Linked DNA regions of Homo sapiens: regions 1 and 3 are each reported to be linked to region 2. The links are microRNA targets in miRTarBase. Many come from high-throughput screens and were not tested one by one. Region 2 holds a microRNA gene; each other region holds the end of a gene's coding sequence.

Region 1 (4,100 bases), not on the chromosome of region 2:
TTGCTCTGTCTCATTTCCAAGAAGGTGGTGGCGCCGAAAAGGCGGGAGAGATAAGCGGGAACAGAGCGACAGGGAACAGGGTTGTGTCACCCTCAGCCGGCAGAGGTGTGTTCAGGGGGTGGGGCAGACGGGGTCACAGACACACACTGCTCACCAGCCATCTGGGGAGCCCTTTCCCCATCACGATGTCATTCTGCTGATCGGGAAAAAAGTTCCCCCTTTTGCTTCAGCGGTTAAGCAGTTTGATGAGCAGAATCAAGGTTCCGCTCTCCTCCACTCACTTCCCCATCGCCTACATGCACACGGGGCATGGCCAGCAGCCGCCAGGCTCCTCAGGAGTGTCTGGCATGTTGGGGGAAGCATCCATTGCTTTAAGCTCTCACCACACGTGCATAGGTTCTGGCAGGGAACACTAGATAGCCCTGAGCAGGGCAAGCATCAGCGTGTGCCCGATCCGCACGTGGTGTTTTCCCAGTGTCAGACCCTTGAGATGTGGCTCTGGTAACTGGAAAATGTTTGAGCAAACTTTTGGCCATAAATGACAGCAGTAATATGGCCCAGCACAGTGGCTTATGCCTGTAATCCCAGCAATTTGGGAGGCCAAGGCAGGAGGGTCGCTTGAGCCCAGAAGTTCAAGACTAGCCTGGGCAACATAGGGAGACCCCATCTCTACAAAAAAAATTTTAAACAAATTTAGCCAGGCGTGGTGGCACACATCTGTAGTCCCAGCTACTTGGGAGGCTGAGGCAGATCGCTTAAGCCCAGGAGGCTGAGGTTGCAGTGAGCTATGATTGTGTGACTGCACTCCAGCCTGGGTGACAGAGTGAGACCCTGTCTATAAAACATAAAATAGCAGTAATAGTAATAGCTAACATCTACAGTCCGATGAGTACATTTTATACGATGGCACATATGTTGACTCACTTCTGCACCAACTCAGCCTGTGCTGCCTGTTCTCCCAGCAGCACTTACTGCCCCACCTTCAGCTCTGCTCTGTATTCAGGGGCTGCCTTCTCAGTCACCCAACCCCAGAGGCCTGGGCTCCCCAGACCCTGCTCCCTTTTAGGAACCTCCTCCCCGTCGGACACTCATTTCCTTCACTTTACAGAAAAGGCACTGAAGGCAGAGATCAGGGCATGGCCCAAGCTTGCTCAGCCAGAGGCAGAGCTGAGATTCTAGCCTGGACAGCCTGACTCCAGGGCTTTTGCTCTTACCCACCAGGTTTCCCCATCTCCCCTAAAACACAGCAGGGCACAGCGGTATGCTAGACCTGGCTCAACATAGCAGACCATGCACATCTCGAAACTCTGCATTCAGTGGCATCATGCTGGTATCCTGAAATCAGCAGCAGTGGGAGTCTTGACACCCAGAAATTGGCAAGCACTACAAGCCAGGGATGTTTTTGGGGAGCCGGTTCCTTAGGACACCACTAGCTGGGGGATGAACCCAGGCTGCCTGACTGCAGTGCCTTCATTCCTTTCCACTACCAGGCCCAGCTCAGGGTGCACACGGCCCAGGGGATCAACAAACCTTGGTTCCAGATGGGCCCTTGCACATTTTGCCTCTTTGCCTTTTTCATTCCAGGGCCATCCAGTGTCAGCCAAGTCACCAGAGCCCGGGGATGTTGTTGTCGAGGAATGAACACTTCTTCCTGGTTGCTGAACCACTTTCAAGGCCCACTCAAGCACAGAAATGCACAGGCCCTGCCATCTGCCTCCTCATCCACACCACGTGGGAGGCTCCTCTTGTCACAGCCTGGGTAACAAAGCGAGACCCCATCTATACAAAAACTTGGCTGTGGTGCTACGCACCTGTAGTTGGTCAAGGCTGCAGTGAGCCGTGATTGTGTGCCACTGCACCCCAGCCTGGGTGAGAGTGAAACCCTGTCTCTAAAAACTAAATGAATAAAGATGGCCTCAGATGGGAATAGCTAGGAAAAGGAGACAGGGCTCTTGTGGGAAGAGACGAGTGCAGGGAGTGGGGGAATTGGGGAGGAAAGGCAGATGGAGCTCCACAAGGTGAGCAGAGTGGCAAGCCCAGCTCCTGGGAGTTGAAGGGTGCTGCAGGCTGAAGCAGGGCCCAGTGAATAGGGGTGTGCTCACCTGGGGAGACACAGGAGCAGCCCCCAGCCCTACCAGGCATCGCTGCATCTCAGCTGAGGACAGGTTTCATCATCAGCAGGGGCAGGGGTCACAGCACAGGCGCCAGAGCCTTGGTGCAAGGCGACAGGCTGACGGGCCAAGCTTGGCGCCCTGGCCATCTGCCCTCCCTGGGGGTGAGGGGCTCAAGGCCAGGCCCCACTATTGGCTGGTGCAGAGGGGAGGGCTTTGGCCCAGCAGGGCAGGGCCAGGGGCTGGTTGTGTTTTCAGGAACTGTTGACACGGAGACCCCTGCCTCTCCTCCAACATGGGACATGTCCTTGACCCCAGCTCCCCACACCCTCATGCACGTCTAGGGCCTCAAAGGGGACATTCATTCCTTAATTCCTCCATCCATCCAACCAACCACTGGGTAATGGGTGGTGCAGCTGGCAGGGACCATGCACAGCCATGTGCACAACAGCAGAACCATGCCTCGTGGAGCTCTGCAGACCCCAGGCCCCCTCCCCACTCCTGAGATGGACAAACACACAAGCAGACAAGGCGGGGGCCACATGGGGCCAGTTTATTGCAGTTAAATACCTCTCTCTCTATTTTTTTTTTGTCAATTTTTCCATAAAGAAAATTAAAACACACACACACACCCCCAAAGGGGAGCAGGGACCCAGAAACAAGAGGTGGGGTGGGACGTGGCCTCCCTGCATAGGTCCAGGCCCCGGGTGGCCCCCCAAAGGCTCCCCTCCTTCCCATCAGCACCCTGTCTCAGTACCTCCAGAGAGCAGGAGGCAGCGGGACGTGGCAGGGCCTCTGTCCCCTCCCTCTTGCCTCCAGGTGAGACCACTAGAAGTGCCGGGGCTTAGTGAGGGCCGGGAGAAGGGCGACAGACAGACGGATGGGCAGGGAGGATACCGTTTCCAAGTGGAGGAGGGCGGTGGGCACTGTATCCACAGAAATGCATTATTTCTCCCCGTTTTTTGTTAAAAATCTACTATAAAAAAACGCAGCTGGGGGAGGGGCATGTGTCCCTCTCTGTGCTAAGGGCTGGGGAAGGGGGCAGCAGAGGCCGGCGTGGGCGGCGGCGGCTGCGTGGTGGTGGCGGGCGTCACTGCCGGGTGCCCTCGCCCACCATCTCCAGGTTGTGCTGCTGCAGCTGGGCTCGAAGCAGGGCGTTCTCATTCTTCAGCTCCTCGATCTGGCGGACACGACGGAGGTCAAGGGAGCTGAGGGCCAGCGCCTTGCATCTGGGGCTCCTGGGCCCTGACCCGCTCCAGGCCCCGCACCCACCTGCTGCCTCAGGAGCTCGTTGTCCATCTGCAGCCGCTCGGCCTCTTTGAAGGTCTCCTGCATGCGCTGGTTGGTCTGGCGCAACTCCCGGATGTAATCGCAGGCCTTGGACAGGATCCCTCCTTTACTCTGGGGGGCGAGGGGACCAGGAGCCTTAGGGCAGGCACCGCCCACCGGCCTCCACCCCAGGGATGACTCCCGAGCCCCATGGCTGTTGGACTTTCTGCATGCAAGGGTCGGGGGCCGGGACCACCGCAGACACTGAGGGTCCGGGGTGCTCACCGCTCCCGTCTTGCTGTTGTCTGCGTTACAGTCTGGAATGATTTTCGAAAGCTGGACGATCCAGTTGTTGATCTTGTCCCTCCGCCTCCGCTCCACTGCGGAAAACAGAGTCACAGCCACGGCTTCGCTGACGGATCATGCCTGAGCGGCCGTCCTCACAGGGCAGAGGCTCAGCCCAAGGACACCCAGGAACAGTGCAGGCCCCACCGAGACCACAGCCCTGGGAAGTGAGGGGCCGCACCCTGAGCCCAGCCGGCCCCCACCCCAGCTTCTCAAGAGGAACAAAGAAACGTGGGCCCTCCAGTGCCACACATGCTTTTAGGACGGGCATCAAAGGCCAGGCACTTGGAGATCATTTTGCAGGCCTGCCCCACCATACTTGTACAAATTTTAATCGACAGTTAAAAATAAGGAAATTTCTCATGGTAATTGGCA
Region 2 (4,111 bases):
CATCTCCATCTTTCTGAGAAAATCTATACAGACTGGAGAGCGCCCTATGGAGCAAACACAGAGGCCCTCACATCTTCAGAGGTCGGTAACAGTGGGCCCACTGCTGAACCCTGTGCAAACAGCAGACGGCAGGGACACTCTGCAACCAGTGGCTTTTCTAATAAAGTCTGGCTGAACCTGTAGCTAAAAGCCACCTATTAAATGCCCTCTCTCTTTAAACAGATAAATGCTAAGCTGACCATTTAAGAAAAATTAGCCAGATTATGCTGTCCATGGCTTGCTTCTTCTTTACTTTCATTTGCTATAAATTCACAGTAAACAAAACACAATCTTCAGGAACAACACAGGAAATTATTTATCTAAAAAAGAAAGTTCTTTGTGATTTTAGATCAGCTTTTTAAAAAAAAAATCCCTTTATCACAGTATAACAGGGGAGATGCTGTTGCAGGCTTTCCACAGGAAAGTTCCAGAGGCACTGAATTGAATAACAGAAAGAAAACCCTAAGAAGGATGTACTGAGAGACAGACCGTCCTGACTTTGAAAGAATGTTCTGAAACATCGATTAAATGTTTCATAAACCAAATAAGACAAAGAAAAAATGCACAAATAAAACCAGAGAACTCTATTCTTTCTCCTATCATAAAAAGCAGATGGTGTAAAAAGATATGTCTAAAGTAACTAAAGACAATTACCCCAATCCCTTTTTTCAATCTATACCCACCTTTTAAACTCTAGAAAAGGAATAATGCTCTGTCAAAGGGACAGCCATGACCCTCACAAGCATGGTCTCAGCTTTCTAAAAACCTGAAGTCACACTATTCACAGGCCATGTTCTAAAGTTCAGACTCATCGGTATCTGGCCTCTTGATCTGTAACCTAAGGTTGATGGCATCAATGGGCCAGTAAGCCAGACCCCTGTACCTGCAATCATACTGTGAGAAACGGCCTAATGCTGAGCTTCTGTGGGTTGCCAGGTGGAGGTGGCAAGTGTCAACTTGCCCTTTTGGGATCCCGGGGGGACCTGGTTCCTTGTATTTTACCCTATAAAAGCATTTCACTAATTGCACACACTACTCTGACACTCCACAATGGTGTTCTTTTTCATGTTCAATCTGAAAACCTGCCTTGTAGGGCTCTGTTCCACAATGGTGTCTCCTGACAATGCTGGATGATGACGTGGTGAGCCAGCTGGCTTAGTAATGAGGCCCTGGATTCGCCTGCACCAAGGGCAGCCAGCAGGAGAAGGGGAGGAGAGGAAAAGGGGGCCTGGGTGGGCCCCCTGGACATCACCAAGATGGTGCCGGCGCCTTGGCCGGCACTGCTCCTATTCATAAGCCTCGGTGTCCTACGGGGCAGAGGCCCTGGTGCCAGCACCGTGGTGGGAGAGGCAGAGCTGGGTGCTGCCCTCACACACCACGATGACAGGACCTGACGTCAGCATAGCCAGAGTTTCTGCCTTTATTACGCTTAGACTCTGGATCAAGGCAGACAAGAGGAAGGACTTCTAAGTTCAGCACACTACATATTAATAAATCTAAAGCATCGAGCATCCTGAAACAGCAACAGAGCCCAAAGAGATTATATCTAACCTTTCCTCTAAGCCACTCTGTAACAAAACAAAATAGAAATGTCTTACTTATTTGTAGCCAGAATACTATGAAAAAGCAACCAGGGAAGAAAAAGAAGCTCCAACAGCAGGGAAAAGACCCTCCTGAACATTTCACATCTCCAAGCCCTCCAAAGCAGAAGACGAAAGTCATCTCTAATGGAAAGAGTTCTAGCACTGAAAGGAACGAACAGAACCACAACTATGGATCAATTTTAGAATCTGGAGATGTAACAACCATCAAACCTTCATTCTTTGCCCCTTTGGTAAGTTCCTCTAGAGTTCTATTAATCATTAAGTGCTTGAGTCACAGAACTATGCTTTTGGCCCAAATGAAATTCATAAATGAGCATTAAAGCTGTCACATGATTGTGTTGCTGGACTCACAACTTCCACCTTTGGACTGCAAATAAATGCTATGGTGCTTTCTTCCCAAGTAAACAATGTATTAGTAACAGCATATTAAGATAAATACCAGCTTGTGGACCCGCCCCCTGACCAATGGCTTGTGTACGATGCATCAAAAGAGGTAGACGAGGCCAGGCGCGGTGGCTCACGCCTGTAATCCCAGCACTTTGGGAAGCCAAGGCAGGTGGATCATGAGGTCAGGAGTTCGAGAACAGCCTGGCCAAGATGGTGAAACCCCGTCTCTATTAAAATACAAAAAATTGGCTGGGCGTGGTGGTGGGCACCTGTAATCCAGCTACTCGGGAGGCTGAGGCAGAACTGCTTGAACCTGGGAGTTGGAGGTTGCAGTGAGCCAAGATCGTGCCACTGCACTCCAGCCTGGGAGACACAGCGAGACTCCGTCTCAAACATACAAACAAAAAAGAGGTAGAGGAGACCTAGACCCATTACACAGGGTCTGCAGGGCCTCTTCAGCTACTGCCCGTGCTACGGGACAGGCCTGTGACGCTGGTCGTTTTTTCCATTTCCAATCAACCTGGAGTTTCCTTTCTATCCTGGAAGGCAGCCGGATGAGTGCTGAAACAGGTATGCCCTTACAATCTGTTTCCTCACATTCACTTGCTCCTACTAGTTTAGTTTGCAATTCTACATGAAAGAGTGGAGCCTCCCAAGGTTACATTCTTTGGCACTTTGGGAGAGTATAGCTGTCTTAGGGTGGCCTCTAAATGTTGTTAGCAAGCTTTTTCTAGCTACTCCCCTCTGTGCTGACACCTTACTAAGTTGAGATTTTTTTTTTTTTTGAAACTGCCTTTTGTCAATTAGCTGTAGTCAGTCAGCAGGAAGAGCCGCTCACGTGCACACGAGCACCTGGGGCCAGGCATGAGGGCCAGACCCTGAAGGGAGACCTCCAGTGAAGCAGCACCCCGGAGAAGACACAGTCACAACACACGATACCCACACTTTCTTGCTCCAATCCAATCTCGGAGTCCTCTTCCTTTCAATCAACACTATTTCCCCCACACAGTGAAGGGAAGAACGGGTGCTACCAAATTCTCCCAGAAAACTAATGTTCTTATTAAGCATATCAACCAAACTCAAAGCAGGGCACGCTGCAGCATGGGCCTTTCGGATTCGTGGCCACCAGCAAAACAACACAGGGGGAGCCCATCCCCTGAGGCATGGCCCCAGTCTGAAAGCGCTCAGTGGAGTCTGCAGAGATCTGAAAGCGCTCAGTGGAGTCTGCGGAGATCTAAAAGCGCTCAGTGGAGTCTGCGGAGATCTGAAAGCGCTCAGTGGAGCCTGCAGAGATGCTGCTGCCTGAAGGTCAGTCATGGACTTCCTGGGGGAAAGAGGTCAGAAAGGCAAGGTCCAGGGATCCTCATCTCACTGCCATGGGTAGCTATTTTTACAGCTTAAGAGACCTGCTAAGGCAGGCAGGAAATGTGTTACTTAAAAAGGGATCTTAGATAACATGTTTTGTTCCCAGAGTTAGCTGTCAAATATATTTTTTAAACTTTTATGGCTATTTGAGAAATATACTCAAAAACTGCAGAAAGACAAGGTGCTTCTGTGGAACGGATTTCCCTTCGGCTCATTTTCCGTGCTGGCTGCAGTGGCCCAGCACCCGCCCATAGTCCTGAGGCCTGCTACATACAAGATGGCTGACTTTGAGGTCAGCTTCACTCTCCAGGCCAAGGAGCATCAAGGAGCGCAGCCTGTGCCCGCCCTGCAGAGGGGTGGCAAGGCAGGAGGTAGCCTGGGATGGTTTGCCTACTCCACCCATGCTCTCAACTCTGTCTGTCCTTGAGCACTTTTCCTTTCACATTCTGAACACGGGGGCATTGCCTCCATGAAGAGCATACACCTGGGTCTTCACATCACGTGATGCAGGCACATGGAGGGCAGGCAGGGTGTGCATAACCTGAGATAGTATTCAGAACCCTGGCCCCACAACCCCTCGACATTCAAGCCCTTGGCAAGCAGCCGCAGCAGACTCAGTGCTACACTCAGAAAATCAGACCAACAGATCAGATGCTCTGTGAACACAGCCCATACACAGAAGCACCACACATAGAAAGAATGGTTAATAGTAATCT
Region 3 (4,111 bases), not on the chromosome of region 2:
AGTCCCTCCCCTTTCCCTAGCCCAGCACAATTCCCTCCATTGAGGGCCCACATCACCTCCAGAGGGAGGAGGGAGGGGTCAGACCCCCCCATAGCACCAATCTGGATAGGCCACTCTCTGACAAAACAGAGCGAGCAGTGCCTTCCACAAACGGGGTAAATGGGGCTAAGAAGGGGGGAGGCCTTTTCCTGTGGGAGACCAAGAGTAGCACCATCTGTAGAAAGAAAGCTGGGGGGTAAGGGAGGCACATAGATGGTGGCAGACAGCTGAGGGGTCCTGGCTTCTCTCCCCACCTGGCAATATGCAGACAGCACCGTGCCTGTGCATGTGCCTGTGTGGCTGGAGAAGTCTTCAGATTGCAAACCACCCAAGGGGTGAGGGAGCCCCAGGTGCCCCAAACATGTGGGGTAAAGTCAAGGTAAGTGCATGTCTGGAGGGCTGGGGTGGGAAGTGGAGGGGGTTCTGGGGCACAGAGATTGTAGGCAATGAGAATGGAGAGGCATGAAGTCCAGGAGCAGCACAGCCTAGAGGGTAGGGGTTTAGAATGGGAAAACTTAAGACTGAAAGAAGGAATTGGGTAAGTTCAGTGGGGTGGGAAGCCCAGAATAGATTTAGGAGGCTGGGGTCTGGAATTAGGGAGTTGAGGTTATAAGATTCAGAACCAGAGGAATCTTTAGGGAAAAGTCTAGATTCCAGAATCAGAAGCATTTGGAGGCTGAATTATAGAATCAGAGGAATTTGGATCTGAAATCAAAGGCAGTTGGAAGCTGTGAGGCTTAGAAGCAGAGGAATTTATAGAATAAAGCATAGAATTAGAAAAAGCCTGGCTGGGCTCAGTGGCTCATGCCTGTAGTCCCAGCACTTTGGTGAGGCCAAGGAGGGAGAATTGCTTGAGCTCAGTAGTTCGCGACCAGCCTGGGCAACATGGTGAAACCCCGTCTCTATTTTTTTTTTTTTAACAAAAAAAAGGAAAAACAAAAGCCTAAAATCTGAGTTCTAGAACCAGAGAGATTTGGGAACCATAAGATCTAGAATCAGAAGGAGTTGAGGGTGGTAAGATCTAAAACCAGAGAAATGTATAAGGCAAAGTCTAAAATCAGAAGATATTTGAAGGCTGAATTCTAGACCCAGGGTAATTTGGAGTCAGATCTTGAGTGAGGAGGAGCTGGAAATGATGAAGTCTAGAGCCAAGGGAACTTACGGAATGAGGTCTAGAATCAGAAGGCACTTGTAAGTCAGTTCTAGAACCAGAGAAACAGCAGATCACCAGATCTTGAATCAGGACCCTGGAGGTGGCACCTTCTAGAAGTTGTGTAGTCTGGAACTAGTGAGTGGTACAGGTCATGAGGTTCAGAATCTAGGAGAACTAGAGCATCGTCTGGTTCTAGAAGAACTGGTTATTATAAGATAAGGACAGGGTCGGGCACGGTGGCTTATGCCTGTAATCCCAGCACTTTGGGAGGCTGAGGCGGGTGGATCATCTGAGGTCAAGAGTTCAAGACCAGCCCCTCCAACTTGGCAAAACCCCGTCTCTACTAAAAAATACACAAAGGTAGCCGGATGTGGTGGTGGGCTCCTGTAATCCCACCAATTTAGGAGGCTGAGGCAGGAGAATCACTTGAATCAGGAGGCGGAGGTTGCAGTGAGCCTAGATGGCACCATTATACTCCAGCCTGGGCAACAGAGAGAGACTCCATCTCAAAAAAGAAAAAAAAAAAAAAGAAGAGGAAGAAAAAAGAGATAAACACATCAAACTCTCTGTACTTGTTTTTGATGAGAGAAAATGAGTCTTGGTTATAGAGAACTGCAGAAGAATAAGCTGAGCCTCATAAGGTCTAAAACAAAAGTGATTTAGAAATTAAGAAGTCTGGCCAGGCTCACTCCTGTAATTTCAGCACTTTGGGAGGCTGAGGCGGGTGGATCAGTTGAGGTCGGGAGTTCAAGACCAGCCTGGCCAACATGGTGAAACACTGTCTCTACTAAAAATATAAAACTTAGCTGGGCGTGGTGGCACATGCCTGTAATCCCAGCTATTTGGGAGGCTGAGGCCCAAGAATTGCTTGAACCCAGGAGGTGGAGGCTGCAGTGAGCCGAGATTGAGCCACTGTACTCCAGCCTGGGTGACAGAGTGGGACTCTGTCTCAAAAAAAAAAAAAAAAAAAGAGAGAGATTAAGAGGTCTGGATTTGGAACCAAATGTATTACCGATCAGGAGAACTGGAACCAATAGGAAGCTTGGAGTTGTGGGGTCCAGAACCAGAGGAAATCACTGAATATAAGATCTGGAACCGGAGGGCGTTGGAGGGTGTGAGATCTAAAACAAGAGGGATTAATTTATAGGAAGAGGTCTAGAACCAGAGGAAGTTAGTGAATTCTAGAACCAAAAGAATCTGGTAGTCATAGACTATAGAGCCAGAGGGAGTTAGAGGCCCAGAACCAGACAATTTTTGGGGATCGTAAGGTTTGAAAACAGGCAGAATGAGAGGCTGGTGAGGCCCAGAACTAGAAAGAGCTGAAGACGGTGAAATTCGAAGCAGAGGGATTTGGAGAAAGTGAGTTCTAGCCGGGTGCAGTGGCTCACGCCTGTAATCCCAGCACTTTGGAAGGCTGAGGCAGGTGGAGCACTTGAGGTCAGGAGTTCGAGACCAGACTGGACAACGTGGTGAAACCCCATCTCTACTAAAAATACAAAAATTAGCCGGGCAATGTGGCACATGCCCGTAGTCCCGGCTATTTGGGAAGTTGAGGCAGGAGAATCACTTGAACCCAGGGCGCGGAGGCTGCAGTAAGCTGAAATCGCGCCACTGCACTCCAGCCTGGGTGACAGAGCAAGACTCTGTCAAAAAAAAAAAAGAAGAAGAAGAGGAAGAGGAGCAGGAGGAAGAGGAAGAGGAAGAAGGAAGAAGAAGAAGGTGATCTAAAGCAGACCACATTGGAGGTTGTGTGGTCTAGAACCAGTGCAGGTCAGAGGTTATACAGTCTGGAACTGGAGCAGGTTGGAGGTTGCATAGTTTGGAAGCAGAGGAACTGGGAGGCTGCCCCTGAAGTAGGAGGACCATGAATGAAGTCAGTGTCCAGGCAAAGCTGGGGGCGGCAGGAAGCCCAGAGCGCAAGGGGCAGTCAGAGCTGGCGGGCAGCTTGGGGTCTTTGGCCTCAATCGGAAGTCACTGGGGGTGAGGTCTGGCCCAGAGCCTCTCCGCACTGACACCTGAAGAGGGGGAAGATCAGAGTCCCACATTCTTACAGACCCCAGGCAATTCATCATGATTAAAAACCATATCATGAAATTGACAAAAATAAAAATAATAATACAAGAAGGATAGAAGGAAATGTGATCACGTTGACCCGTGGATCATTGTTCTCCCCAGAACCTGGAAACACAGATATGACCCCCCCAACCCTCCTCACCCCTGATTCCCCAAAATAAAGCCAAGAGAGGCAGAGAAAGGGATAATGAGGTAACCAAGTATTGAGAACCCCAAGAGAAATCCTGAGAGAAGGAGGAGGGGGCCAGGGACCACCTCCCAGAGGTCACTGAGCTGAGACCACCCCAGAGAGCCCCCAGATTGGGAGCAGGCAGAGGGGTGAGGGCTGAGGTAGGCCCGAGGTGGGCAGGGGGTACATAGAGGAGAGAGGGGCCCCTCTCCTGGCGCCCCCATCCTGTGCGTTGGCTGCCGGCGTGGAGTGTGGTTGAGGTCCTTTCTGGGGGAGGAGAAGGCAGATGGGGAGAGGAGCCGGCTCAGTCAGCCTGGGCTGAGCCTGCCCTTGGCTGGAAGGGGCCCCCGGGCTGGGTAGTGTCCTCGTCTGAGTACGGAGAGAGCAGTGAGGGGCCCAGGCCTGCAAAGATGAAAGATAAATGATAAATGAAAGGTAAAAGACGAAAGATAAATCACAGGACAACCATAACCCCAATGTCAGGAATAATGTTTAAAATCTTAAGGAAATTGAACACTCGAACAAAGGATTTTTAGTAATTTTACTTTTGCGCAGAGGGGTGCCTCTTTGGCTAGTTGCCATGAGAGCACACTGGAACAAAGGGGCACAAGAGCCTTTATTTTTGACGCAAGTCTTGTTTTTGTACTTTTTTTTTATTGGCTGGGGTCGGGTTATAC

Evidence for each region. Region 2 holds the annotated microRNA hsa-miR-6081 (AGGAGCAGUGCCGGCCAAGGCGCC, at 1,304-1,327, opposite strand). A microRNA usually pairs through its seed, bases 2 to 8, with sites in the 3' UTR of a target mRNA and lowers its output. Matches are read on the target gene's strand: a 7mer-m8 pairs with bases 2 to 8, a 7mer-A1 pairs with bases 2 to 7 and ends in A, and an 8mer does both.
Region 1: miRTarBase lists USF2 as a target of hsa-miR-6081. Seed matches in the 3' UTR shown: 7mer-m8 at 2,753-2,759.
Region 3: the mRNA of HIF3A is a reported target of hsa-miR-6081. Seed matches in the 3' UTR shown: 7mer-m8 at 3,569-3,575, 8mer at 2,987-2,994, 7mer-m8 at 2,870-2,876, 7mer-A1 at 2,617-2,623 and 7mer-m8 at 512-518.

Annotation. Positions count from the first base shown.
Region 1 is chr19:35,278,358-35,282,457 of GRCh38, reverse strand. USF2 (upstream transcription factor 2, c-fos interacting) reads right to left here. Exons shown (of 10, transcript NM_003367.4): 8 at 3,666-3,760; 9 at 3,384-3,512; 10 at 2,637-3,291. The coding sequence ends at 3,202. Among named protein-coding and RNA genes, the nearest start is that of HAMP, 2.1 kb to the left of the region's middle. RefSeq lists enhancers at 1-68, 1,455-1,504, 1,595-1,674, 2,114-2,258, 1,765-2,264 and 1 more and a cis regulatory region at 2,180-2,193.
Region 2 is chr9:95,062,622-95,066,732 of GRCh38, reverse strand. MIR6081 (microRNA 6081) reads right to left here and starts at 1,383; the gene lies at 1,287-1,383. All of the region lies in intron 14 of AOPEP (aminopeptidase O (putative)), which reads right to left. RefSeq lists an enhancer at 3,246-3,955.
Region 3 is chr19:46,339,250-46,343,360 of GRCh38, reverse strand. It overlaps HIF3A (hypoxia inducible factor 3 subunit alpha), which reads right to left. Exons shown (of 15, transcript NM_152795.4): 15 at 1-3,836. The coding sequence ends at 3,739. Among named protein-coding and RNA genes, the nearest start is that of PPP5C, 5.8 kb to the left of the region's middle.